Regions from separate parts of the Homo sapiens genome. Here region 2 is linked to region 1. Evidence: fine-mapped expression QTL. Tissue or cell type: B cells. Region 1 holds a variant in brackets; the other region holds the start of a gene. All regions are shown on one strand. Distances are from middle to middle. Region 1 overlaps CD86 (CD86 molecule). Region 2 holds the start of CD86 (CD86 molecule).

Evidence for each region. PIP is the estimated chance that this variant, and not a neighbour inherited with it, causes the effect. A credible set is the group of variants that fine-mapping cannot tell apart.
Region 2: CD86 starts here. The variant in region 1 is the best candidate, but not a certain one, in a credible set for the expression of CD86 in B cells (Fairfax 2012, PIP 0.73).

Annotation. Positions count from the first base shown.
Region 1 is chr3:122,079,175-122,082,091 of GRCh38, forward strand. The region is part of intron 1 of CD86 (CD86 molecule); the gene reads left to right. Among named protein-coding and RNA genes, the nearest start is that of CD86, 25 kb to the left of the region's middle. RefSeq lists enhancers at 2,390-2,479, 2,510-2,659, 2,680-2,729. The variant A/G (reference allele first, on the strand shown) is at 1,533.
Region 2 is chr3:122,053,679-122,056,595 of GRCh38, forward strand. It overlaps CD86 (CD86 molecule), which reads left to right and starts at 1,684. Exons shown (of 7, transcript NM_175862.5): 1 at 1,684-1,825. The coding sequence starts at 1,812. It also overlaps a transcript of ILDR1 not described here.

The DNA.
Region 1 (2,917 bases):
GAAGGAAATTGTTCTATGTGACTATATCAGCTGATTAATTACCAAGCCTTTGCATTTGATATTTTGGTTAGTCTATTCTTCTTGAATTTCATATGCCTCTTCCTGGGTGGGGGTGAGGATGGGATTTTATGGAGTTGAGGCTAGGGCAGGTAGGGAGAAAACATGAGAAAGATGAAGAGATAAGCCAAGCCAGATTCTTCAGCAGAAAAATCAAGGTTGAAATACCATGTTTCAAAAATCAGACTGAGGTGGGAGTTGAGGTTAGGGGTCCCTAGGCCAGGGGATTGAAGCTTCAAAGAGATAAAACTAGAGCAAAAGCAAGCACAGAGAGTGGCAGAGAGGTCCCTGGGCATTTTTCCACAGTCCATTCTAGTGCTGGCAATCCACCTTTCATGGCCAGGCAGGTAAGAGTATTTGTGGGGTGGGAGAAAGGACAGGGCCATAGGCTGGGCACACAGCCCTTTACTGGCCCTTATCTCTCCTCTCTTCTCCTATACAGTGCTGTTTCCGAACTGTACATTGGCTTACACTCGGGCTGAGGTTTGGGAAATAGGCGCCATTTTGAATATGTGTGGAGGAAGAAAAGTGTGTCTTCAGCACTTTCCACCTCCCCATCACGGCCCTGAGACCTCAACACCGGGAAGCATCTCGTTCCCTATCGGTCCTCCTTTATTCATGGACGGATATGATTCCTTTCTAAGTTCCATGTCCTTTTTAGATAAATTAACTTGAACCTAATGCCTAATGGCTTAAAAACAAACAAAAAAAACCCTCTTCCTTCCAGCTAGCATTTGCATTTTAACAGGGGCTTTCAAAAAATGCCTTAGCCCAAGGAATGAGTAATGTGGGAATTCCAAGCAGCAGGGTAGGACTGGTGCACAGTATGGGGAGAGAAGGCCCCTCAAGTTGTGGCCCTGAAATGTTGGCTTCCTCTCTTTGACCATGATGCTGTTTCTGAGAAAACAAGAATCAGGCTACCTTAGGGGACCAGGATGGGCATGGCTCCCTTTTAGTGAGTTCTATGAGCCTCATACCTGACAGTCAGAGCCCTCGAGTGGATGAGCACAGACTAGAAGAAGCACTGTGAAACTTTGCATGATCCTTACCTTTTTGGCAAAAAGGAAAAAAAATCGTTCTCAAATTCATCAATAGTTTGAAATAGGGTGTGCCTTGATTCAGAAAGTTTCGATTCTAGATACAACTCGGAGAACTAGGCGTGTCTTGTACACAGATTTGCTCTTGGGGGACCGGAAAAGCTAAATGCTATCGCCATGCTATGCTCCTTCTTCTAGGCCAGTGAGGGGAACGCATTCTTCATTTTAATATTTCAGTTGCCTACAATATTGGAAGGTGGATAAAAGCACCCTCTGCTCCTTCTAAATCTGCGAAGACATTTCTTCTCTGCACCTACTCATCCTTGATGCAGCTCTCCTCATGTCTGTATGGAAACACTGTGCTCTCAAATGAGTTTCAGAAAGAACAACTCACGAAAGAAAACAAGCATTCGGTCAGAAAAATCTCCACAAATGGGG[A/G]ATAAGGGGGATTTGCTCCAAGGAGAGACTGGAAACCAAGTCAGACATAAAATCCAGCCTAAGCTAGAAGGAGACATGGCTGGTGGGAGCTTGAGGAAAACAGAGCTCAGGATGGAGGACGTCTCCACCTCCAGTCATGTCCTCTGTCCACCAGACACCAAGAAGTGTTCATGTTCCATCGAGGCAGCCCTCACACCCATCCCTTCCTCATCATGCCGACTGCCTCTTTACTGCTTCAGGCTCACCATCTCAAGTCGACGAGCCTGTAATACTGGCTTTCTTGATCACCCTGATACCAGCCGTCACCTCTTGACAGGCTTATTTTCTTTAAGCTGTCATTACACCATTTTTCTGCTCCCAAACTATTAATTCCAAACTTCCAATTTTCTGTTAAATTAAATATGAATTCCTTATTTGACTTTCCATGCCCTATTAGGCTATCTTGCTCCTTGCTTTACTTATAGAAACTAATCTCCCATTATTTATCCAAAGACAACCTCTGCTGCAGGCCAGTCAGCTTTTCTTACTGTCCTGTAAAAATTCCATGGTCACTCCTCCATTTCCATGTGTCCTTAAAAACTGTTATTTGATTGTGTCTCAGAAAGTCGTCAAAGAATATATACCAATGAAAAGCATCAAAAAGGTTATACTTGATGTTATGTGTGTATCAAAAATATGGCTGAAATATTTATCCAGTGAAACTCAATCAACACTAAAAAGTGGTTCTTTCGGAAGCATCAGTTCTTTGAGACCCATTAAACAGATGCCTCGGATGCAGGGTTATATATTATCAGGAATCTGTCTAGGGAAGAATTATTGGAAGCTTGCAAAGCCTTTCAAGGACAGAGGACGATAGCTACCACGTTGAGTTCTAGGAAATTAACCATTGTTATTGTTAAAGGAAGACAGCGTTTCTCAGAGGAAGACTGTTAAACAGTGCAGTGGCCCAGGCTAACAGCCCTCATAAGTGGGAGTATCAGAATGAGTGGACTTAATTACTTAAAACCAATACAGGGTGGAACTTCATCTGCTATAACAGAAATCAACTCGTGCAAGTTCTAACATGCAGGGTACAGTTCTGAGACCAAGTCTGACTCACCTGTCAAAGCTCAGCTCAACTATTACCACCTTTACACCACCCTTCCAAGCTGTAGGAGTGCTTGCTGTTCTCCATGTCTTCTGAAGCCCTGGATCACTTGTAGCCAGCTCAGCAGACTCTACCCAGACAGGGATCCTTTAAATGTACCATATTGTCTACTGTGTTAAAAATGAGAGGAACTGACTCAGGGTGAGAGCGATGGAGTGTCCAGATGTTCTCCTTTATTTCTCCTTATTCCTGGAAATGTAATGAGAATCTTAGAGGTGAACTGAAAAGTTATGAGTTC
Region 2 (2,917 bases), 25 kb before region 1:
TTTCACAGTGTATACTTGATGTACTATTAATGTACTATTTAATGACTACTAAAAAGTTTATGATAACAGGAGAAAATGCTTATGCTATCTTAAATAAAAATTTGAGTGTATGCATTGATACCAAGAAATGGAAATTTGAGTGTGTACACTGCTACCAAGAAACTGAAAAATGACATCCCATACCTTTAATATTTAATATTTATAACAAATGAGGTTTACATGGATTTTTTTATCTCATCTTATTTCTGATGTGTTATGTAGTTATAAATACTATTTTATTTGCACTCCTGCTCTGCAATAATTTTGAAGATAGATAACTTATATTATTGCTGTCTTCATTTTTTAAAATTCTCAAATCCAGATGAAATTATCAAAGTTGATAAAATAATCATTGTTCTATCTTCTTATTTGAAGATTAATAATTGTGTTGATTTTGCTTCCTTGCTCTAGTTAGCAGTGATGTCATCTGCTATTTTTAAACTTCCTTGAAATAATATATGTAATCTACTTCTAATAAGTTTTTCTTATTTAGCATTTTGGTCTAAACTAATTTATAATTATTTAGCCTTATTTCTCCATGTTTAACTTGCTTTAAAGCTCAGCACTGGTGTTTTCAGCCATGGCTTCTCCATTTTAAGGCTATTTTAATTCATTTATTATTCTGGAATATATCCTTAAATAATTTATTTAGGAAGGCTGTCTTGGTGGTGGTATTTCTGTTGCAGTTGTTGTTTTCTTGCCTGCTTGGTGACATATTTCTATTGACTTGACACTTAACTGGCATCTTATCTAGGTAGATAATGCTAATTCAAAATTCTGCAGATATTGTTCTGTTGTTTTTTGCCATTTAGGGTTGAGTAAGATGCCAAGTTGTTTTTTGTTTCTCTGTAGTCATTCTGTTTTCATTTTGTTTTTAGCTTTGCCTTTGGAATTTAAAATGTTCAAAATGATTTGTCTGGATGAGAATCGATTTTCATAACTTTTGCTTTGATACACTAAACAGTTTGAGTTTCTAGATGATGCCCATTTTAATTCATACGAGGAAATATCTTCTAGTATAGTTTCTGCTTGATTAATTCTATGTTTGTCTCTTAGGGACATCTATTAATTTTATAATGCTGCCTTTTTTTCAGACTTCTGTTTCAGAATATTCGCTTTCATCAATGTAATCCTTGGCTATAGTAGGAATGAAATAATAAAAGCAGTAGCTTCTGTCTGCCCTCCTTGGTTATGCAGTCCTTACAGAACATCTCCCCATCTCCCATCCCCCCACCCCAGCTCAGTGAAACTCTCCACACTTTGGTTGTGGAAATTGGCAGGGTTAGGTGGCTACTCACTCCCAATCCACATCCACAATAAATCACTTTTTATTATCTTATCAAAATCTGTAGAATGCCTCTTTATTCTATTTTGTTGCTGCGGAGGTTTGTTTTCTCTTTCTAATTATTTTATTTTCTAGGTTTTTTGAGGGAATTTCAAGAGGGGAGATTTTTTATTCAGGCTCATCTTAACGTCATGTCTGGAACTCAAGCTACTGAATTATATATTCTTTAATACATATAGACCTACGTCAATGAGTTTAAACTGCAAGGAAAGGGTTAAATTTCTTCCTCAAGTGTGGTCAAAATCTGTAGAGAAAAGAGGAACAGCTTCTCTTAAAGAAAGTTAGCTGGGTAGGTATACAGTCATTGCCGAGGAAGGCTTGCACAGGGTGAAAGCTTTGCTTCTCTGCTGCTGTAACAGGGACTAGCACAGACACACGGATGAGTGGGGTCATTTCCAGATATTAGGTCACAGCAGAAGCAGCCAAAATGGATCCCCAGTGGTGAGTAATAATTCTTATTCTTTGCAGAGAAGTTATGAGTTGTGACTGCAGTGAAAGGCTGAGGTTGAAGATGGTGCTTTGATGTGTGTCCTTCACTTAGTTCCTAAGTGGAGAAGCTTTCTTTTTCTACAAAAGATCTTTGGCACATAAAGGCAAGAATTATTTGCAATGCCCAAAGCAGTTCATTGGTGGTAGTTATATATATTTTTAGGTGCCTAATTTTGGTTTTGTAAATCTGTTATTCAAATACTGAATGTTACAGTCATTGATTTTAGTGAAGAATCAGGAATTTTTAAAATATCTGCATAAGAATGACAAATAACAGGGAATATGTTTTTTGTCTACCAGGGTCAGTTTGGTCTGAGGGTGGAGGAATGAGATAGAGAAGGTAGAGGGAGAGAGATCAAGAAAAAGAAAGAGAAAAAAGAGGTATAAGGAGAAAATGCAAAACTCAGTTAATATGTCATAATCAGGCCATGGGAGATTCTGGGCAGGGTTGGGTAGTGGAAGGAGGTAGAGTGATTAAATTAGTTACCATGTATTGAACATGCATGATGTGCTGGGTACTTTACTAGTGCTATTTCATTGAATTTTATTCTTCACAATGACTTTTGGAAAGACATCATCATTCTTTTTGACAGATGGGGTAACTGTGGCTTAAAAAACTTGCCCAAGTTCACACTATTCATAAGGGGTAGAGCTAAAATCTTTCCTGCCCGCTTCGTGGTGCGCCAGAAGGTTTCTCCATGCTGTGGAGACTTCCTGGAAGGAGTCACACCCGCCCTTCTCTTGGGTGGTGGCAGCTGGCGCCAGTCACTATGTATTTATTTATTTTTAATTATTTATTTTTGAAACAGAGTCTCGCTCTGTCGCCAAGCTGGAGTGCAGTGGCGCAATCTCAGCTCACTGCAACCTCCGCCTCTCGGATTCAAACGATTCTCCTTCCTCAGTCTCCTGAGTAGCTGGGACTACAGGCGCCCACCACCACGCCCGGCTAATTTTTGTATTTTTGGTAGAGACGGGGTCCACCATGTTGGCCAGGATGGTCTCGATCTCTTGACCTTGTGATCTGGCCACCTCGGCCTCCCAAAG